Homo sapiens: one gene and its partners. The protein of the gene in region 1 interacts with the protein of each later gene in a pairwise test. Each region holds a gene or a part of one and is shown in the gene's direction. Other genes may lie near its edges.

The links.
Region 2: the proteins of TRIM5 (region 1) and MTURN interact in binary tests that used the Homo sapiens proteins (3 or more experiments, as listed by UniProt).
Region 3: the proteins of TRIM5 (region 1) and MPP7 interact in binary tests that used the Homo sapiens proteins (3 or more experiments, as listed by UniProt).

The regions. Positions count from the first base shown.
Region 1 is NC_000011.10:5,674,995-5,682,617, reverse strand, and holds part of TRIM5 (tripartite motif-containing protein 5), read left to right. Parts: intron 1-2,379; 5' UTR 2,380-2,440; coding exon 2,441-2,857; intron 2,858-3,448; coding exon 3,449-3,544; intron 3,545-4,183; coding exon 4,184-4,414; intron 4,415-7,623.
Region 2 is NC_000007.14:30,130,529-30,138,450, forward strand, and holds the start of MTURN (maturin), read left to right. Parts: upstream 1-4,457; 5' UTR 4,458-4,608; coding exon 4,609-4,770; intron 4,771-7,922. UniProt on the Homo sapiens protein: Promotes megakaryocyte differentiation by enhancing ERK and JNK signaling as well as up-regulating RUNX1 and FLI1 expression. Represses NF-kappa-B transcriptional activity by inhibiting phosphorylation of RELA at 'Ser-536'.
Region 3 is NC_000010.11:28,299,528-28,307,124, reverse strand, and holds the start of MPP7 (MAGUK p55 subfamily member 7), read left to right. Parts: upstream 1-4,060; 5' UTR 4,061-4,264; intron 4,265-7,597. UniProt on the Homo sapiens protein: Acts as an important adapter that promotes epithelial cell polarity and tight junction formation via its interaction with DLG1. Involved in the assembly of protein complexes at sites of cell-cell contact.

The DNA.
Region 1 (7,623 bases):
ATTTCCCCCTTGGATCTGGTCAGGGGTCAAGATCTGGACCATGCTGGGCAGTCTGGCTTCTTCTTAAGCAACTTTGTCTATACATAAAGGGAATAAAGAAAAACGTTAAGAAAAATAACTTTCCCAGTCATTTCATCAGGGCTTCCCTGGTGACAGCATCTGTTTGCCTCTACTAGGGCACCAAGTCCAGACTCAGGGAACTACTGGATTTTCTTAAAAATCATTAACCTTGCTCCTCCCTCTCCGTGGGCCGTATCTGCCCCCCAAAAGCAGAGCTTAGGTGAGATACGAAGAGCAGGAGAAGCATGTGGAAAGAATACCCAAGTAGCTGGGATTACAGGCACCTGTCACCAAGCTCAGCTCATTTTGTATTTTTAGTAGAGACAGAATTTCACCATGTTGGCCAGGCTGGTCTTGAACTCCCAGCCTCAGGTGATCCGCCTGCCTTGGCCTCCCAAAGTACTAGGATTACAAGCGTGAGCCACCACACCCGTCTGGTTAAGTTAAATATTAAAAGCTGAAGCCGGGCACGGTGGCTCACGCCTGTAATCCCAGCACTTTAGGAGGCCGAGGCAGGTGGATCACAAGGTCAGGAGTTGGAGACCAGACTGGCCAATATGGTGAAACCCCATCTGTACCAAAAATACAAAAATTAGCCGGGTGTGGTGGTGCGTGCCTGTGGTCCCAGCTGCTCGGGAGGCTGGGGCAGAGGAGTCACTGGAACCTGGGAGGCAGAGGTTGTGGTGAGCCGAGATTGTGCCATTGCACTCCAGCCTGGGCGACAGAGCAAGACTCCGTCTCAAAAAAGAAAAAAAAATATTAAAAGCTGATAGAGCCAGTGCCCTTATACAAAGGCTGGAATGTAACAGAAGCCCACTGAGAGTTTTGCCCAGGCCTTTCCTGGGCCTTGAAGCATGACAAGATAACGAAGGAATCGATTAGGACCTGTTTAGGATTAAACAAGTTTTATGGGGGTCTGAAGGAACTCCCAGGCCTCCACAAACAAGTTTATTGAGGGTCTGAAGGAACTCCGCAAACCTTAATGATTTAGCAGGAGAGACAAGATAAGGGTAATCACCCCAGCACCCGGACCCATCTAGATTAGGTAAATTTACTGAGGCACCAGAGGAAGGTCTTAAAACTCAGACCTTAGTTATAGATTTGAAGAAGTTAATCACTTATGTTTTTAGATGAATAATGCACACCTATACGTAGACGTATAGCTTAGAAGGTATATAAGCTCTGGAAAACTTTGTAATTTTGAGTTGGTCTGGAGATATTTTCTAGGCCTTCTCCCTGTACGCAGAAATAAAAATTCGCTTCTTTCCCAGTAAATCTGCATCTCGTTATTGGGCCGCAAGAAGCAGCAGCCGACCCTCCGTTTGTTCCGGGAACAGAATCATCTCATCTAATATTTTGAGACTTCTCTCTCAAGACTGATATCCACTGCCTCTGTGCTTCTAGTTTTCAAGTATCCAACATGTGTGGTCCACTGAGTATTTCTCTATCATCACCCTCTACACCATGTCTACACCTTTAGGCTCCAATAAATGTCCTTGGCAAACTTTCAGGATGAGACTCCTCAGAACCTCCCAGCTGTTGTGGATTCCTCTACTTCCACACCCCAATTGCTCTGGGTATTAATTGGATATATGCTGTTATCTCCATTTGTCATTGATTAACCAAAAGAGTAGCAAAGAGGCCAGTGAAAGAGGACCCTGAATACGAGGTCATCTCAGGTCACCATACTGAAGATAAATAATTTTTGTAAATCACTTATTATGTCTATTTATACATTTGATGAAACAGTCATTCACTCTGCTGATAATAAGAGCAATCATTGCAAACGTACAGTGCATGGTGAGATTTGTTACACTGCACATAAGGTAGTCAGAGCAGGTATTTTTGATAATATAACATGTAAGGAGAGAATTTAATAAAATCGTACTAACATCAGAGAAACATTTCATGCTGAGAGAAGAGCAAATGTGAAAGCCCTGAGGCATAAGCTGTTTGGTGATTTTAATACTGAGGATGTGTTTTGGCGTGGGAAAGAAAAGCCAGGAGAGATGATGGGTCACACAAAGATCTTGGTAGAAAAGACCTCAGTCTGTTTTCTATTCATTGAAAGTAAAGAAAAATGATAACCAATGCACAGATAAGAACAGAATTTGTCATATGACATGAACTGGCAGTAAAGTATTTAAGGTGATTATGAAAAGCCCTTATTACCAGGTAACCAAACACCTTTTCTTATTTCTCCCCTTTTTTTGTCCTTAATTATTTTCATCTTGCCCATTTTCTAATTGTGCACAATCAATATCCTTTCTATTTCTACCTTTCTTACTTGGTCCCATTTTAACCTTCCCAATCATGCAGGGATCTGTGAACAAGAGGAACCTCAGCAGCCAGGACAGGCAGGAGCAGTGGAATAGCTACTATGGCTTCTGGAATCCTGGTTAATGTAAAGGAGGAGGTGACCTGCCCCATCTGCCTGGAACTCCTGACACAACCCCTGAGCCTGGACTGCGGCCACAGCTTCTGCCAAGCATGCCTCACTGCAAACCACAAGAAGTCCATGCTAGACAAAGGAGAGAGTAGCTGCCCTGTGTGCCGGATCAGTTACCAGCCTGAGAACATACGGCCTAATCGGCATGTAGCCAACATAGTGGAGAAGCTCAGGGAGGTCAAGTTGAGCCCAGAGGGGCAGAAAGTTGATCATTGTGCACGCCATGGAGAGAAACTTCTACTCTTCTGTCAGGAGGACGGGAAGGTCATTTGCTGGCTTTGTGAGCGGTCTCAGGAGCACCGTGGTCACCACACGTTCCTCACAGAGGAGGTTGCCCGGGAGTACCAAGTAAGAGACTGGGATGGAAGGAAGAGAGGGCAGAAAATGGGACCAGATGGAAAATTTTCACTTTGCCTTTGACATTAACTGCCTTGTCATGATAGACCTGAGACCCGGGATTATTTTTTTCATGCTATGCTTAACTTCTGAGGCTTTAAGGATGGTTTTTTGCATTTCACCCAATTACAGGAGAATAATCCTAGAGTATATATTCCTGGCCGGGAGTAAATATTTTGTACCTTGGGTTAGATGGGTAGAGATTTGGTGTCCAAGAAAAGCTCTGATTACCCCTTTCAGCAGGAGAGTAACAGGAGTGGGTTGAGATGTAAGTTTTTTCCTTGCTGCAGGATTAGTTTTTTCTTCTAGGACAAAAAGAATCAGTCTACTCATGGTGAGGAGATGGGGAGGTCTATTACCTGAGATGTAGGGAGCACATTCACCAATGTAAGTTTTCTTCCAAGTCATGGATTCTCATTGCCATTCTCACAGTTTCTGCAAATTTGTTTCTTCTGAGATCAACCTGATTTATTTCATGTTTATACTCTATCTAGGTGCTGGAAAACCTCATAGCTTGACTATGGTGTGATTCCTTTCTCACAGGTGAAGCTCCAGGCAGCTCTGGAGATGCTGAGGCAGAAGCAGCAGGAAGCTGAAGAGTTAGAAGCTGACATCAGAGAAGAGAAAGCTTCCTGGAAGGCAAGAGGATGTGGTTCCCGAAGGAGTTAGCTAGAAATCTGGGCAGGACCAGGGGAAGGAGCTTTCTTCCTCTTTATTCCCTGACATTTGATAAGTCCAGAAGTCATTTGATTAGTCCTCTTCATCCTTTCCCTGATGGGGTGTGGTGGCTGAGGAGTGAATATGTCACAGTGAACACAGTAGGGAGCTCTTTACATGAAGGATCTCTCTGGTGAGGATGGCTAGTGAATCCTGCATTCTATTTTTGTGCTACTTTTTGAGTCCGTGACTCTACTTGGGGAAGACATTTGGCAATGGCTCATGATTCTGTCCTCAGTGTTCAACTTTTGGCAGGGAGTTTGAGCTTGGGCTGAGAAGTAATACAGGCAGGCATGAGTGTCCTGCATAGCTGTGTGAAAGGTAAGCTACATCCAGGTAACCCATTTTGATGCAGGATGAACCTCAATATACCCATTCAAGGTCATTGTTTTAAAATGTCATGAAGGAAAAGAAATAGGAAAAGGCAGCTTTCCTAAGACCTACTCTCCTGCTACTATGTCCCCTCCTTGTGAGAACTCCCCAAAAGAAACAGCTCCTTTTCTGGCTAACAGCCTCTGCCTGGTAGACTGAGTGCCCCTTTCTCTTCTCTTATCTCTGAAGACTCAAATACAGTATGACAAAACCAACGTCTTGGCAGATTTTGAGCAACTGAGAGACATCCTGGACTGGGAGGAGAGCAATGAGCTGCAAAACCTGGAGAAGGAGGAGGAAGACATTCTGAAAAGCCTTACGAACTCTGAAACTGAGATGGTGCAGCAGACCCAGTCCCTGAGAGAGCTCATCTCAGATCTGGAGCATCGGCTGCAGGGGTCAGTGATGGAGCTGCTTCAGGTAAAAAGTGGAAAGAAGCCTGAGCACTGAGATTAAAGAAAAGTGAAGGCTATTTCCTTCTCTGCGTTGCTGTGCTTTTTCTAATATTAACAATGTTCTCTGCAGGACCGCTTTTCTGAATCAATTGCTGAAGTTATAAGAATAATTGAATGTAGAAGTAGCAAGAGATAATCCCATTTTTATTAATTTATCCAGAGCAGTAGAAAAATTTGACGTAGTGGAGATGATCAATTAGCTCTAGTCATGTTTGATAGGTTCCTATTCTCTGTATTCTAGTGTTGAGACTTACCAGTGCAGCTTTTCATTGCTCAGCTTAGCCACTGGCAAACAAATACACGTCAAAATACAAGATGCTTTTTATTTTTTTCCTTCATGGAATTAATTGAGACTTTTTCCTTTTTTTTTAATTTTCTGAAAAGAATTAAATAACTGCTATCATTTCTTCTTTATATGCTCAATAGAATTCACTAGTAAAGGCTGGGCGCGGTGGCTCACGCCTGTAATCCCAGCACTTTGGGAGGCCCAGGAGGGCCAGTCATGAGGTCAGGAGGCCCAGGCGGGCCAGTCATGAGGTCAGGCGATTGAGACCATCCTGGCTAACACGGTGAAACCCCGTCTCTACTAAAAATACAAAAAATTCTAGATCCCTGAGGAATCGCCACACTGACTTCCACAATGGTTGAACTAGTTTACAGTCCCACCAACAGTGTAAAAGTGTTCCTATTTCTCCACATCCTCTCCAGCACCTGTTGTTTCCAGACTTTTTAATGATTGCCATTCTAACTGGTGTGAGATGGTATCTCATTGTGGTTTTGATTTGCATTTCTCTGATGGCCAGTGATGATGAGCATTTTTTCATGTGCTTTTTGGCTGCATAAATGTCTTCTTTTGAGAAGTGTCTGTTCATGTCCTTCGCCCACTTTTTGATGGGGTTGTTTGTTTTTTTCTTGTAAATTTGTTTGAGTTCATTGTAGATTCCGGATATTAGCCCTTTGTCAGATGAGTGGGTTGTGAAAATTTTCTCCCATTTTGTAGGTTGCCTGTTCACTTTGATGGTAGTTTCTTTTGCTGTGCAGAAGCTCTTTAGTTTAATTAGATCCCATTTGTCAATTTTGTCTTTTGTTGCCATTGCTTTTGGTGTTTTAGACATGAAGTCCTTGTCCATGCCTATGTCCTGAATGGTACTGCCTAGGTTTTCTTCTAGGGTTTTTGTGGTTTTAGGTCTAACGTTTAAGTCTTTAATCCATCTTGAATTGATTTTTGTATAAGGTGTAAGGAAGGGATCCAGTTTCAGCTTTCTACATATGGCTAGCCAGTTTTCCCAGCACCATTTATTAAATAGGGAATCCTTTCCCCATTGCTTGTTTTTCTCAGGTTTGTCAAAGATCAGATAGTTGTAGATATGCGTCGTTATTTCTGAGGGCTCTGTTCTGTTCCATTGATCTATATCTCTGTTTTGGTACCAGTACCATGCTGTTTTGGTTACTGTAGCCTTGTAGTATAGTTTGAAGTCAGGTAGTGTGATGCCTCCAGCTTTGTTCTTTTGGCTTAGGATTGCCTTGGTGATGCGGGCTCTTTTTTGGTTCCATATGAACTTTAAAGTAGTTTTTTCCAATTCTGTGAAGTCATTGTTAGCTTGATGGGGATGGCATTGAATCTGTAAATTACCTTGGGCAGTATGGCCATTTTCACGATATTGATTCTTCCTACCCATGAGCATGGAATGTTCTTCCATTTGTTTGTATCCTCTTTTATTTCCTTGAGTAGTGGTTTGTAGTTCTCCTTGAAGAAGTCCTTCACGTCCCTTGTAAGTTGGATTCCTAGGTATTTTATTCTCTTTGAAGCAATTGTGAATGGGAGTTCACTCATGATTTGGCTCTCTGTTTGTCTGTTGTTGGTGTATAAGAATGCTTGTGATTTTTGTACATTGATTTTGTATCCTGAGACTTTGCTGAAGTATACCATTTGACCCAGCCATCCCATTACTGGGTATATACCCAAAGGACTATAAATCATGCTGCTATAAAGACACATGCACACGTATGTTTATTGTGGCATTATTCACAATAGCAAAGACTTGGAACCAACCCAAATGTCCAACAATGATAGACTGGATTAAGAAAATGTGGCACGTATACACCATGGAATACTATGCAGCCATAAAAAATGATGAGTTCATGTCCTTTGTAGGGACATGGATGAAATTGGAAATCATCATTCTCAGTAAACTATCGCAAGAACAAAAAATCAAACACCGCATATTCTCACTCATAGGTGGGAATTGAACAATGAGATCACATGGACACAGGAAGGGGAATATCACACTCTGGGGACTATGGTGGGGTGGGGGGAGGGGGGAGGGATAGCACTGGGAGATATACCTAATGCTAGATGACGAGTTAGTGGGTGCAGCGCACCAGCATGGCACATGTATACATATGTAACTAACCTGCACAATGTGCACATGTACTCTAAAACTTAAAGTATAATAAAACAAAAACAAAAACAAAAAAAACACAACAGAAGAAAAAAAAAAAAAAAGAAATGCAAGAAAGCTAGCACCCCCAGGGGCATCCTTCAACCAATGGGGTTGGGAGTTGATGGAGAAATGCCTCAGCTCTCAGTGTTTCGGGCAGAGATTCTGGGGCATTCCCAGGAGGTTTGGTGGGATCATGATCCCATAATGCCCAGAAACAACCCCAACAGCTTACTCATACATTGGCTTCTCCTCCTCCCTGTCTTACCTCCCTGCTCCCTCATTCCTGCTTCCTGGGGTCAGGTAAATCACCTGGACCCAGGTCCTTGTCTCAGGCTCTACGTTCAGTGTTTCTCATGCTGTATTCCTCGGAACCCCAGGGCACCTTAGGATGTGTCTACCCCTCTCTCACCTGCATTTGATTTAATGCTCTGTTGTCATCATCTTGAAATGTTTAATAAATTTTGAACAAGGGGCCGCATATTTTCATTTTGCATTGTACCCCACAAATGAAAAAAAATAATACAAAAAATTAGCCAGGCGTGGTGGCGGGCACCTGTAATCCCAGCTACTTGGGAGGCTGAGGCAGGAGAATAGTGTGAACCCGGGAGGCGGAGCTTGCAGTGAGCCAAGACTGCACCACTGCACTCCAGCCTGGGCAACAGTGCGAGACTCCATCTCAAAAAAAAAAGAAAACTGCTCTTATCCCAATTTTCAAGAATACAATACATTG
Region 2 (7,922 bases), on another chromosome or scaffold:
TACCAGGTGAATGTGATCAGCTAGGCATGTTTTGAAGGCAATTGTAGCCAAAATGTAACCCCAACTCGCTCAAATTCTACATCCAAACCTTTCAGAGGAATGTCCAAAAAAGAAATAATTTTGTAAAAACTAAGTTTGGAAGATTCAGAAACAAAATTCAGAATGAATTTTGTAGGAAGGCTGAAGGAAATCCTTTTCCAGAGCTTTACTGGGCAGTTGGGGTAAATCACAATGACTCATTTATATAGATCTTCAACTTTTCGCTGATCTTCCAACTTGATTTTCTTTCAGACTCTAGTTGCAGTGACACATAAACTATGGCGCAGGCTTAACTCATGTCTGCCCTCTACTTATCCTCCCCGCCCCACTGCTGGGCTCACTGTTCTGGAGCACAGTGCAGGGAGAAGACAGCTCTCATCCCTCCTGTGTTGCTCTCCTGGGAGTTACTTCTCCAGATCCTATGGTCTTTTCACCTCTCCCATCACAACTGTGACAAATCAAACACCTCTCTCCTGACCACCGTCTCCTGGAACCTGGGGTCTACAGTCCCTCTTGATACAATGAGACGACCTTGCGTTCAGGTGAAGGGTGAATGTGGAACCAGCTACGCTTCCCTCTCTGCCTACCTCCTCCTACTGCATAACCACAAGGCTATGTGGATGGAGCAGATTTATCAAAAACTAGGGCTAATTTAACGGACTTACAATATAGGAGTGAATCAAAGGTCAAATTATATGTTAACATCAAACTTACACTAGAATAAAAGCCATGGAGAACTTCAAAACAGAGATGGGCAGAAGAGTCAGCATTAGCAGGACAGTCTAGGGTGGCCTTTGCATTCCATACTGAGCTCCTGATGTCCTAGCCAGTGGGGTTTGAATATGTCTCCTCTTCTTGCCAACACACATCTCCCAAAGGCAAATGGTGATTTTCAGAGACAGCAAAGTCCAGATTTCTATAAATGAACAGAAACGTTCCTTAAATACAATGAAGACTGTACAACTCTGCCTACTGGTGGGGATAAGTTTTTTTGTCTGTTTGTTTTGTTTTTTGAGATAGGGTTTCCCTCTGTCACCTAGGCTGGAGGGCAGTGGTGTGATCATGGCTCACTGCAGCCTCGACTTCGAGGGCTCAAGGGATTCTCCCACCTCAGCCTCCCAAGTAGCTGGGACTACAGGCACATGCCACCATGCCCAGCTAATTTTTGTATTTTTAGTAGAGACAGGTTTTCACCATGTTGCCCAGGCTGGTCTCAAACTCCTGGGCTCGGTGATCCACCCACCTTGGCCTCCCAAAGTGGTGGGATTACAGGTGTGAGCCACCACGCCTGGCTGGGGAGAAGTTTTAATTTTCCTTCTACTTCCAAACCATGGCCAAAGGCTATGGGAACACAAGAAAGGGGGTATGGGTAGCCCTGGTGTTTCCTCACCTACTGGCTGCACAAAACACCTGGCTAGAGTTCTGAAATGACCACTGCCCTGTGCATGAGGCCTAAATACACCCCTACAACCTGGGATGCCTCACAGGACTCTCCCCAAACAGGAGGGAGGCAGGGCAAAGGTTTATGATCTTCTTAGCTAAGCAACTGGTGGCTTTACCAGTTGTTCTAAGGAAACAAAATTTCAAGCAACTTCTGCAGATGAACTTTCCAGGATGAATTTCAGCTGCTTTATGTGCATACCCTTTCCACTAGTTAGTAAAAATGACCAAAACACGACTGTTGCAAGACTTTTCTCTCTAAATCTGTGGTTCTCAAGTAGGGGTAATTTTGCACTCAGGGGACATTTGGCAATGTCTGGAGAAATTTTTGCTTGTCACAGTGGAGAGAGGGGAGGGTAGAGGGAGATGCTACAGGCATCCAGTGGGTGGAGGCCAGGGAATGTGGCTAAAAATCCTGCAATGTGCAGGACAGCCTCCAACAACAAAGAATTTTTGGCTTCAAATATCAATAGTGCTGCTGCTGAGAAACCCTGCTCTAAAGACTTGGAAAAAAAAATGAGATTTAGGTTCATCTGTGACCAATATTACCAGTCATATCACTCCTGAATTTCACTTTAAAAATTCATTAGCTGATCTTCTTACACATCATCCCTAAGAAGTAGATTAAGAGTAATAATGGCATTTACTGAGTTCTTACTATGTGCTAGGTTCTGGGATAAGGACTTTATATACTTTATCTCACTGTTGTCCCTGTTTTCAGAAAAGAAAACTGAGCTCCGAGCAATGAAGGAAGTTGCAGATGCACATAAAACTTAAAATGGCAGAGGGAGGAATCAATGCAGACATGGAGTTCTGAAGCTTTTGCTGTTGCTCTCAGTGCATTTCTAAGGAAACCCAACGGTATCCATTTCATTGACCAATTGCTTTGTACCCAAAATTTTATTTTTCATAAGAGTTTTTCATTTTCTGACAAAAACTATTTGTTAAATAAACATAACTTCATAATTCTGATCACATCACTTGGAGCAAATTTGACTGATACATTTTAAAACACATGGATTAAAAAAAAAACTCCTTCTTTCCCGAAAAAGGAAAAAAGGAATGTATTTTTCATATTTTCATCTCCAATTTAAGGAATTCATTTTTGGAACACATATTATGCTTTAAATGGTGGTGCCAGGTAAAACTGCAAGGAAGCTTGTGCTATCTGGAGACACCCATACTTTTTTTTTTTAAGGACCATTTTGTAACTTTACAACAGCATATTGCATTTTTATATTCATGTGCCTGTCTCCTTCATTGTCCTGTGTATTAGTTTTCTACTGCTGCATGAAGAATTTAAACAGACCTAACAGCTTAAAACAACACCCATTTAATAGCCCACAGTTCTGAAAGTCGGAAGTCCCAGCACAGCCATGGCATCACTGGGTTCTCGCTCAGGTTCTGCGAAGGCTGCAATCATGGTAATAGTCAGGCTCAGTTCTTGTCTGGAAAAGACAACAAGTTTGAGAAAAAAATCTGCTTTTCAAGCTCATTCGGGTTGTTGGCAGAATTCAGTTCCTTGCAACATTGGCCTAGGCAAATAATTTATGACTAAAACCCCAAAGGAAGTGCAACAAAAACAAGAATAGACAAATGGGCCTTAATTAAACTAAAAAGCTTCTGCACAGTAAAAGAAACAATCAACAGAGTAAATAGACAACCTACAGAATGAGAGAAAATATTTGCAAACTACGCATCTGACAAAGGACTAATATCCAGAATCTACAAGGAACTCAAACAACTCAACAAGAAAAAAAAAAAACCCATTAAAAAGTGGGCAAAGGACATGAACAGATATTTCTCAAAAAAGACATACAAGTGGCCAACGAACATATGAAAAAATGCTCAACATCCACTAATTATCAGAGAAATGCACATTAAAACCACAATGAGATACAATCTCACACCAGTCAAAATGGCTATGATTAAAAAGTCAAAAAACAGCAGATGTTGGTGAGGGTGCAGAGAAAAGGAAACATATATACGTGTTGGTGGGAATGTAAATTCGTGCACAGTGCCTGGTTCAGAAGACACACTTTACAGAAAAAAGCTGGCTGAATGTTTATAACGTGTCTGTGTTTGTAGTGTTCAAGTCCTGAGGGCGAGGACCCTAGTGCATTTTCTGCAATCCAGTAATGCCTGTCCAGTATATGGCAGCCAGTGAGCACTCAACAGGTGCAATCGTTGGGCCACACACTCTTGTTTTAAAATGTGCTTTATCCTCTTGACCTTTTTAGGTTATGCAATGTGAATTCAAGCTGAATAATACTGAAGCCAGTCTTATGAGGCTCATTTCTAAGAAATATTCAGCTTTACGTAACGCAAATAAAAAATCACACACGCCCTTTGCAAGTGAACATTCATATTAGTGTCTGATAAATGCATTAAGAAGACACATTCCCTTAAATCAATCGGAGAACAGAACTTTGGTTTCTGCAAAAAGAAAAGCTCCCTTTTCCTTAGATTTTCTCAGCTCCTCCACTGCTAGCCCCAGACAAGGTCCAAGTTATCTGCAGTTCTATGGCCTCCCTTGCATTTAAATCGCATTTGGGCAAACGCTTCCTGGGCTTTCTAACTCCACAGAAACGCTAACCAGGTATTGGGCGCTCGCACCGCTTCCAGGTAACCCGCGGAGCTGCGGATTCCAGGCTCGCGCTGTGACGTCACCGGGCTCGCAAGCCGCGGCGCGGTCTCAGGCTCCGGTGATTGGCTGGGGCCCATGACGTCACGGCCCGGGGCGGCACCGCGATGGCCAGGGCCCCGGGATGCTCCGGGTTTGTTTAAAAATAAAGGGGGGGCGGGAGCGCCCAGGAAAATCCGGGCGCCCGCGGGGGTGCCGGCCGCTCCTCCCGCCGCCCCGCGTCCCGGCCCGGCCGCGCCAACCCCCACGGCGGCCCGCAAGGGGGCGGGGGGAGGCGGGGCGGAGGAGGAGCCGCGGGCGCGGCGCCGCGCTGTCCCCGGCCGCCGCCCGCCCCACTCCGCACCGCATGTAAACAGTCCCAGCCGGCCCAGCCCGGCCCCGGAGGAGCCCGCGCAGGCCGAGCCGAGCGCCGCGCTGCCCGCCCGGGAGGAGGGCGCCTAGGAGCGGGAGGGCGGGCGGCGGCGGGAGGCGGGCGCGGGGCCGCGATGGATTTCCAGCAGCTGGCCGACGTTGCGGAGAAATGGTGCTCCAACACGCCCTTCGAGCTCATCGCCACCGAGGAGACCGAACGCAGGATGGATTTCTACGCCGACCCCGGCGTCTCCTTCTATGTGCTGTGTCCGGACAACGGCTGCGGCGACAATTTTGTGAGTGCCTGGAGGAGGGACCGCCGGAGCCGGCGGGAGTGTGGACGCGGCGGTGCGTCCCTGCGCCCGAGCTCCCGCGCGGTGGGCGGCGGTGGGCGCAGAGTGGGGGGCCGTAACCCGCGCCCCGCGCCCCGCGTGCTCCGCCGGGGAAGCCCCGGGCCGGGCGGTGCGGGCTCCGCTGCCCGGGTGGGGCCCGGTGGGCGGCGGGCAAGGCGCCCGGAGGATCCGGGGAGCCGGGTCGGGGCGGGAGGTGTGGCGTCCCCCTAAAGGCCACTCCTCTCCCCGCTGCTGCGGGCGCCGTTTCGGGAACCCGACCTCGCGGCCCGTGCGCGGTGCCTGGCATGGAGCATCCCTGGGGTGTGGGTGTCACCCGCGTCGGACCAGCCGGGTCTGGGGCGCACGGACCCTCCGGCAGGAGCCCAGGTCCGGAGCTTCCCACATCCAGGCGTCCCGTCCGGGATAGGAATCCCGCTCCCCTCCGGTGCCCAGCCTCGGCTCCTCGCATTGCCCCTCCCGGGAGAACCCCACTCCCCGCCCTCGCGGGTTAGTCCTTGCACTGCCTGTTTGGACACAAAGCTCTGTCCATACTAGCGATGCCCGATCTCCTGGACCTTCTTTGCGGAATTACACCCCGGATCTTAATACGCACGCGCGCCTGCGCATACACCCCAACACACACACACACATGCTCACACCCTCACCCTCACACGCGCACACTCACGCGCACACGCGGCACGCCTCTCCCCCTGCCCCCGCGCTGCCCTCGCTGCCTCTCTGAGCTGCCCGAGAGGTGTGTGTGGCCCGGGCGGGTTCTCTCCAGCCGAGGCGGTGCCCTGGCCCTGCTGAAGCCCGTTGGCTTTTCCAGATGACGGGGAATCCCCTCAGCCCCGGCTCAGAGGGACCGGGAACTGGGACTGCGGTGTCCAAACCTTCCACTTTGAATCCTGCACCCACCTGGGATCCCGACTCTGGCAGTTGAGGAAGGGGATGCGGAGGGCAGGGGAGTCGGGGTGGGAGGGGTGGAGTAGGGCGAGCACGGTGCTCATGAAGTGTTTCCAAGGTCGGGGAATAAATAATGATCCCCAAATGTAAGATGGAGGCGGCCGTGGGCGCGGGTGACCGTGTGGTCGCGGGCCTTGTGGGCGGAGGTGGGGTGGTGCGGGGCGCGGCCTGGTGCACGCTCCTCAGGTGGGGGAGACAAAGCTGGGCCGTGGTCCTGCCGCCGAGCGCCCTGACCACCTACGGGAAGTTCGCGAAGGAGTTAGGGAGACTGCAAGACCGCCTTTCTTGGTCCTGGAGAGGTGAAGGCTTATGTATGCCTGGCCGATAAAGCATTCCCTCCGCCCACACGCACCCCCTGAGGAGGGCAGGGATCCACCTGGGCATTCCACAAGTGGCACTCCAGAAGAGGGATGGCCTTGTGTGACAGCCAGATTTGAGTTCTGGCTCTGTGACTGTGCTCAAATACCCACCCTGAGCTCAGTTTCCACATCCAAAAAAATAGGTATAATAATGCCAGCACCCAGGCGTTCATATAGGTAACGCACCGAATAGTCCCTAACACACAGCAAGAGCCCCACAAATTTGGGGTTAGAGACCTGGGGTTTCCCAGAATTTAGAGCTTGTCTCATTTTTTAAAGAGCCTTGGTTTTCCCACCTGTAAAATGGGGCTAATCAGAATACCTCCAGAAGAGCCAACTGAACAATAATATTAATGCCTGTAAGCCCATCTTAACTGTAGGTAAAGTAAGTAAATAAGTGTTCTTTTTGGAAGGAGTGGGAGATCATTAAAAAGGGATTCACTCCATTGCAAAAGTGTGAGAAAGCCCCCAGGATACAGTGGAAAGGGCACCAGAATCCAGCTGACTGTAAAATGTTAGGGTTTGGCTAGGGTCCCTTCCAGCTCTGGGCTTCCTTCATCTGCCAGCGCCCTTTCTCCCTCCTGACCGTGTGAAACAGGGCAAGAATGGCTCATGGTTCTGGATTTCACTGGGGAGAAGCCCACACAGCCTTCCTGCTGGGACCGCCCAGGCCATACCCAAAGAAATGACTCCAAAGACAGTAAGTGGGCCAGGAAGACAAAAGGCTGTTCTCTTGCCATGAATATGTGTATCCAACCATCGTTCAGAAGTAAGAAGTATTATATTATTTGTATCAGGCCTTTCTCTTGAGGCCACCCAGATTTTAAATATTTTCCCATCTGCATGAGAAAAATGCTTGAAAGTGTCATGTAAACTGACAATTTAAATAGAATAGATAGAAAGATAGAGGATGGGGGTGGGCAGATGATTCCTTGGGTAGAATGGAACTTTCTCCAAGTTCTGGAGGCTCTAATGGACAAGATGCCAACCTCGGGAGTTTTCCTAGCCGGACCTCTTGAATCTGTCCCAGGCCAGGTTTGTCAAGCTACTGTTTGCCTCTAATAAGTGTCCTGCCTTAGTTCTTTTCTTTTTCCCTGGAAAATGTATTAAGCATTAGACAAAAGTGTGAGATCAATGGAATTTCTATTAGTTGAAGGACTTAGCAATAAGAATGTCTACATGAGCATTTCTCAATTTACAAAAGTATTTCCACATCATTCATTCATTCATTCAACAAACATTTATTGAGGGTTTACTTTGTGCCAGGCCAGTGCTATCTAGAATACAAATAGGGTCTCTGCCTTCATGTTCCTGGGGCAATTTTTACTTGTCTAGGAAGCAGTGTGGTGTGGTGGTTAAGCACACAGGCTGTAGATCAGACTACTTGGGTTTGCACCTCAGCTCCCCGTATTTGTGTGCCTTGGGAAAGTTATTTAACCCCTCTATGCCATACTTTTTTTTTCTTTTTCTTTTTTTGAGACAGTCTTGCTCTGTCGCCCAGGCTGGAGTGTAGTGGCGTAATCTTGGCTCACTGCACCCTCTGCCTCCCGGGTTCAAGTGATTCTTGTGCGTCAGCCTCTCCAGTAGCTGGGATTAAAGGCGTGCACCCCACGCCCAGCTAATTTTTCTATTTTTCGTAGAGACAGGGTTTTGTTACGTTACTTAGGCTGGTCTCGAACTCCTGGGCTCAAGTGATCCTCCCACCTTGGCCTCCCAAAGTGCTGGGATGATAGGCGTGAGCCACTGCACCTGGCCTCTATGCCATAGTTTCTACATCTGTAAAATCGGGAT
Region 3 (7,597 bases), on another chromosome or scaffold:
AATGCGTGTCTGGTAATCTGCCCAGTGTGTCTTCTCTGGGAAACCTCTGCTCATAAACAGGGATGGGCCCTGGCAGCCATACTGGTCCCCTGCAGCCCCCATCATCTATGATTAGGGTTAGGGTTAGGCAGGTGATTTAGTCCTTGTGGGTGCAGCTCTGGAACATCATTTCTCTGACACTGGGACATAGGAGCCAGGGGCTGGTTATCAGAATAGGAGAATAGAGCACAGGTGTAGAGAGAGCACCTGCTATGGAAAAAAATTCCATTGAGTTCCTCCTGGCTTTTCAGGTCTGCGATCTGGGTCTTCCTGAGGACTAACTTATTTTTGCCTTTGGGTTCTATTATACATCTATCTAATCTATCAATCAACGATCTATTATCTATCTATCAACTATCTATTATCTATCATCTATCTATCAACTATCTATTATCTATCATCTCTCTCTCTCTCTCTATCTATCTATCATCTATTTTAGAGACAGGGTCTTACTCTGTTGCCCAGGCTGGAACGCAGTGGCAAAATCTCTGTTCACTGCAGCCTAGAACTCCTGGCCTCAAGCAATCCTCCCACCTCAGCCTCCCGAGTAGCTAGGACTACAGCTGCACACCACCAAACCTGGCTAATTTTTAAATTTTTTGTAAAGATGTCTTGCTATGTTGCTCAGGCTGGTGTTGATTTCCTGGCCTCAAGTAATCTTTCCACCTTGGCCTCCAAAGTTGTTGAGATTATGGGCATGGGCTACTGTATGCAGCCTCTTCTGTCTATCTAATGAATTTCTGTCCTCTATTAGGGTGAAGAGATAGCTTTTCAGTGGCTTTGAAGCATTGTGCCAAATATTTCAAAGATCACATTTTAAAATCTACTTTTTGATTTATTTAGTTGCTGCAAATTTTGACTTATCTGTCACTAATCAGCTGGATGTACTGAGATACTTTGACATTTCCTAATGTCTGGTGCTTTCTCTTTCTGGCCCTCCATAGTGAGGGCTGGATCTCTTCCCTTATAGGTATCTGCTAATGCTGGAGGCTCAACTGATAAAGTAAAGATAGCCATCCCAAGAAGCAGGCGGAAAGGCTGGGGCTAATAGAACAGATCTCTACTCCAGGGGCTTCAATTCTGCCCTAGTTCTGGTCAAATAGGATTAATACTGCTCACCGTTACTATCCTAAAAGGGCTGTCATGGTTGAAAGTGGGCATTTACTATTTTCAGTGTCTTTTGTTGCTGGAATAAAGGAGATGATAATATGAAACAAAAATCAGGTTGCTTCTCCTCATATTTTGCTCAGCTCCCAAGCATTCAGAATGTCGTTACTAATTAGACATTTGTTTCAACATTCTGGGGCCATCCAGGCTAGGCAATCTTGTGATGTGGGGAAAGTTGACTGGTTATGCAATGGCTTTGCATTAGATCCCCTGCTCCCTTGCAGGCGCTGAATGCTCTTCTGTTGTTCTCTGGATCTAGAACCCTGTCCCTTTTCTCTGGGATGGCTCCTACTGATGTTTCAGCTTATTCCTCATTTGCTGCAGGACAGTCTCCTTGGCCCCATAGTACTCTTGATTTCCCCATCACCTGTGCAGTAATAGTTTCTCTATAGATCCACCAGTCTTGTCTTATTCATTGTTATATCCACAGATCTAACCTATTTCTAGTAAACAGTAGGTTCTTCCTAGATCCATTCCTGATGATTGGCTTAATGAATGAATGCTCATTTTACTGGTGACTCTGAAAAAGGAAAAAAAAAAATAATGATTTTACTCCACTATCAGCAACTCGATGTTGCCCGTCAGGAATCCTTGTAACAAAATACAAAGTTACCATTGCCTACGAGGTCCTCACCTCCTTCTCCAACCTGTCTAGTAGCACTCTCCTTATGCACCATGATACCCATGCTGGCTTTCTCTCTGTTCCTGCTATACATCACTTTTCTTCCTACTTCAAGTCCTTTGTTCTTGCTATTTTATCTGCCCTGGAGTTTTGCTAAGTTGGTGTTTTCTTATTTAGGTGGTGCCTCAAATCTTAGAGCATTTCTCTTAGATCATTTCTCCTTAAAGCATTTTTCTCCTTTCCCAAAATTAAGTGTGTCTCCCATCCCTCTGGTCACTGTTTTCTTCTTTGCCCTGATCCCGGTCTGGAAGTTTATCTTTTTATTGGATCATTGTCCATCTTCTGATAAAAACAGCTGCAAGTCTGTCTTGTTCAAGGCTATACTCTGAGTGCTTAGTAGAAAGCCTCGTTCATTGCAGTATCTAGTATTTGATGATTAATATTGATTACGTTTGATGAGTAAATGAATAAAAGAATAATCTTAGACATACATTATTTAATCCCAGTGAAAGAATGTTAGTGATGGAATTTCAGGTGTTATTGTAGAAGAAACTTTTGAAGGGTATTCCCTACAGTTTGTTCATACTAGGCTAAGTTCCTCTTCTTTTCCTTACACAATGTAAAAATATTAGATCTCAAAACTATTTGCTCAAAGTACTTACTTTAGGACACGTATTTTTAGACTACAGTTTAGAATTACAGTTATTATTAGAAAGGTTTGGTAAAAACTCTTTTTGTTAGGCAATAAGGTTATTCTGTCCTCCAAAGACCTTTACTTTATTCTCAGGAAGTAAGAGAGAAAAAAGAATTTCTTGTCTTCTTTCTATCAGGTGTTTTGCCCTTACTTCTCTTTAAGTTTATGTTTACCTTAACATTCCTTTCCTTCCTCAGGTTTGCTTTTTGTCTATCTCCATTTTTCACTATTACGTAATTCACGGAGTTGCTGGGGGGAAGTGCTTAATTTCAAATAGCCTGTTTTAGAACTTTGCGAGAATGACAAGAACAAACAGAATGTTAAGGCAGCTAGAGAGAGTTAAGTGAGAGTGGTCCCTAGGTGAGAAATGCTTCTTGCCTTCTAGGCTGACACCAGTTCTGGGGGATGTGTTCTGAGAGCTCATATTAACTGCAGGTCATTGATCCTTATCTCAATCCCCTTCCTCTCCCTTCAGCTTTCCATTCAAAGTCTCTATCACATCTTGAAGTGTTGTCACATTATTTTTTTTCTGATGATTCCCTCCATCAGCTGAGCTTTCCAATTTATATTACCTGATTTTTTTTTGTCTTCTGCTTTTTACTACCCCTTTTTCTAAAGCTTTATTGATTGTGTACTTTGGATTCTAATTCTTCCTATAAGAGTCTTCCTGTAATTCTGTTTGCAGTGTAGTGCTGTCCACATTATGTGTTGGTTACATGATAGGAAGGAGTATGGGGGCACCTCGGTCACATATGTAAAGTTCTTTAAGAGAGCTGAAGGGCGCTGATACCAGTTCATGTTTTTTCGGGGTAGCCCTCAGATATTAAGCATGTTTACTGTATTTTCTTCTATTGTGAAAGAATCAGTTCTCTGGATTTCCTTAAAGTTTGTCTTTACCATTCTCCGCACCCTACTCATTTTTCTATTTAAGAATTTTTTTTTCTAATCATGTAGTACATGTTCAATATGGAACACAAAAAGGTAATAAGAAAAAGTCACCTACAGTGTCGCCAAAGGTGAAAACACCTTATGTCTTTTTTCGTGCATAACAATATCCCTCTCAATCTTATGCAGCATTTTTAAACCTAGGAGACTTGTCTGAATCCAAAGGAAGTTAAAGATTACGTTATTCACCAAGTTCATACTGAAATCAGAGAATCGCAGCGGCTTAAGAAAACTCGCATCTGGCGAATGAACCTGCGTATCCGGGGTTCTCCTCAGGGAGGTTGCTCGTCCATGAAACACACTCCAGTCTGCAGCCACCTGGGAGTGGGAACCAAGGGCGAGCGAACCGGGCGGGCAGGGGTGGAACTTGCGGGGACTGCGGGTATGAGGAGGAGCTACAGAGCTGTCACCAATCAGAGCCCAGCTTTGTTTTCTCTTGCCGACCAATGAGGGAGTTCTGCTGGAGAGGCGTCTTCAAGTCTGAGACGCCTATCGCCTTCGCAGCCTATCAGCAGGCCCCTCTTACCCGCGGGCGGTGCAGCCCCGCCCCGCCCCTCCAACCGCGGTCCCGCCCCTCCGAGGGTGGGGGCCGTGTTGGTTACTAGCCGGGCTGGAGGCGGGGGCCGGGCTCCCACTGGGCTCGTGCGTTCTGCGCCCGCCGCGGCGGTGCCGAGCCCGCTGGCTCCCGATTGTCCTCTGCGGCGGTGGCGGTCGCTGCCTCCTTGCCTCCGGGCCCGGGGCTGCAGGGGCCAGAGCGAGTGCGCCTCCTGCCCGCGGACCGCGGCAGCCCAGAGCAGGTAATGGGGCGCCTCTGGGGAGCGCCTGTCGGAGCCCAGGGCTAGGCTCGGGCGGTGGGGTCGGCCCCCGAAGCTGCTCCCTGCGCCGGCGACCGGGCCGAGCGGTGCCGCGGTCCTCCGGAGCCTCCTGCCGGCCTCTAGGCGCCTCAGCCTGGGAGCCCGCGGCGGGCACCTTGTGAGGAGGTGGGGGCGGGGCCGGGGCAGGGGCGGGGCCGCCTCGGGCGGGACCCTGAGGACCCCTGGAGACCCCTGTTGACGCGCGGGACTCCGGGCGGGGGCGGCGGCGGGGCAGACCCAGAGCGGGGAGAACCGACAGGTGGAGGAAAAACTGCGGAGTTGAGTCAGAGTCCGGCTCCCCGGGGAAAAGAACCGACTGAAAGGGAGCGATAAGCTGGCTGGCTTCTTTTTTTTCTTTCCCTAAGCCAGAAAGGCGTCTTCACTTGGGTCGTGTTAATTACATGTTTTCTGAGAACAGGCGTTTGGCCGTGTAATCTACACGATAGCATTATTTATTTACTTATTTGCTATTTAAAAAATTAAAAGCAGCATTTAGCGTGAATCTATTTGGGGGCTTTTTCTTAAGTGACAGGTAGACCCAGCCGAGTAACTCAGCTTTGTCTGGGCTGAAGTGGGGAGCGGTGAGGTAGGAATGAGGGGGAGGAGTGTTCGTGAGGAATGCCTGTGCAGGTTTGAAAGGATTGTGGGGGTGGGACCTTGTTTCTGTCACTGTGCCATGGGTGGGAGTAGAATTGTGATTTTTTTCTTTTTCTAATTTTTAAAAGCAATATTCACATTTAAAAAAGGGGGGGCTCTCTAAAAACAGTCTCTGTACTCGAGGCTTTGGGGATGCACCTGCTAGTCAGGCAGTAATAGTTTGCAGGTAAATCCTGGGCTATTAATTACGTAATTTGATTTACTTATAAAGAAGTATCTTGAATTGTTGCTGCCTTTCCTTTGACTTGCTCAATATATTGCTTGTTTACAAGTGAATTGATGAAGGTCACTGAGTTTTAGCGGTAATGTCACAGCGATGGCCCTTGGAGAGTTTTCTATGCTCAGGTTCACTCTGGTTCTATAAAAACAGTATTTCCATTTAATCGTGAAGCTCATAGCACTCTATCAATTATATAGTATGCCATCCTCCTACTCTTCTGAGGCAGGCTGTGCATAGCATGTCCATTTTACAGGTATGTCAACTGAAAGCCCTAGAAATGAAAGGAATCCTGCCCCACTTTACTCCTACTTTATTTTATACCTATAATGGATTTAATCCAAAATCTGGGTAAGATTCCCGCCATCAAGCCAACTTCTGCATACCAATTTGATCCCGTATACACAGGTCAGAGGTGGAGATGGTTATTTTCAAGTAAAGAAATATTATCTGCGAGGTTTTTCTTTCCATTCAGGTTGCTTAGCTAGTTTGAATTTCAGGTGAAAGGTAATTTTCCACACAGGCAAAACAAACAAAAGTTAGGAATGCTGTGTGAAAATCTCTATTTTAAATTTTGGGAAGCTTTCCAAATTAGAGAACCTTATTTGTGTTTGCATCTCTAGCTCAGCATTGAATTTCGGTACCTTTTTTTGAATTGAATAGAAATAATTGATATGCAGAAGGAAAATACTAATGAAGTGTAATGCATTTTGATCATGACTTATGACTTTGTTTCGGGAAGTGTTTACTGTAAATTTATAGACGGATTGAAGAATAATTTCTTAATTAGAATAACTTGACCAAAGGAGTTTGGGCATTAGTGTGGGACAGGCTGAAATGGGTAGTTGGGAGTAGCCGCTTGTATGATGTTAAGGCTTAGGGAATTCTAGAGAATCGTTAGGTTTTGTTAAATTTACTAGTTATCAGGAACATGAAAATGTCTTATGGATTACTGAATGGAACTCTTTTTTTTTTTTTTTCTGAGGTGGAGTCTCACTCTGTTGTCCAGGCTGGAGTGCTGTGGCTCACTGTGATCTCTGCCTCCCTGGTTCAAGTGATTCTCCTGCCTCAGCCTCTTGAGTAGCTGGGACTACAGGCGCATGCCACCACGCCCAGCTATTTTTTTTTTTTTAATATTTTTGTAGAGATGGGGTTTCACTATGTTGGCCAGGCTGGTCTCGAACTCCTGACCTCAAGTGATCTGCCTGCCTTGGCCTCCCAAAGTGCTGGGATTACAGGCGTGAGCCATTGCACCCAGCCTGAATGTAACTGTTCTAATCATGAAGTTATCTCTTGTTTTGTGGCTAATACCTCTGTTTCACATGTACATTTTAACATATTCATGTAACATATAAGGCAACTCTTCTTACACAAGGCTGTCACTCTAGCCCAGCATTTATTTACTTATTTATGTTTTAGTGGCTTTATTTAACTTTTACTCTCCTGTCAAAATTTCTAGCACCCAAGCAAAAATTTCCATAAAGGAACTTTTATCATCTGTTGATTATACAGAAAATGAATCATTTATTCTCATAAGCCCAGCCCTCTTGCATTGTGGGACACTGGAAAGATATTTTGGCTGTTTGTAAAGTATTTGCTTGTATTCTTACCTGAAGCTTTGACTTCTCCCCCTCCCCCAATGGTTTTCAGAGTTTCTGTGACTTTTTTCTTTAAATTAATTATGACACTACCTGACTTCCACTAGATGGTGCACTGGGGGGCGCTTACTGGAGATTTCAAACAGATTTTTGTTTTTCCTTGTTATAAACATTTCACTGACAAAGATACAAAGGTACTGCAGCTGTTTCTCTCCTAATTGCAATTCAGACAAAATTGTAATGAATGACTTAAGTCTTGAGTTTTGGCCAGGCATGGTGGCTCACGCCTGTAATCCCAGCACTTTGGGAGGCCGAGGCGGGCGGATCACAAGGTCAGGAGATTGAGACCATCCTGGCTAACACGGTGAAACCCTGTCTCTACTAAAAAATAGAAAAAATTAGCCGGGCGTGGTGGTGGGCGCCTGTAATCCCAGCTACTCGGGAGGCTGAGGCAGGAGAATTGGCCTGAACCCAAGAGGCAGAGCTTGCAGTAAGCTGAGATCGTGCCACTGCACTCCAGCCTGGGCCACAGAGCGAGACTCCGTCTCAAAAAAAAAAAAAAAAAGTCTTGAATTTTGTTAAATGAGATACATTCGGAAGGAAAGGGTATTCCTTCATTTTGAATTTAAAGTGAAGGAAATTGTTAGTCAGGCTTGCTCTCTGAAGATACTGTGTTTTTTACAAACTGAAGGTTCGTTGGCAACCCTGCAAGTCGATTGGTGCTATTTTTCCAATAGTGTATGTTCATTTTGTGTGTCTCTGTCATATTTTGGTAATTCTCACAATATTGCAAACTTTTCATTG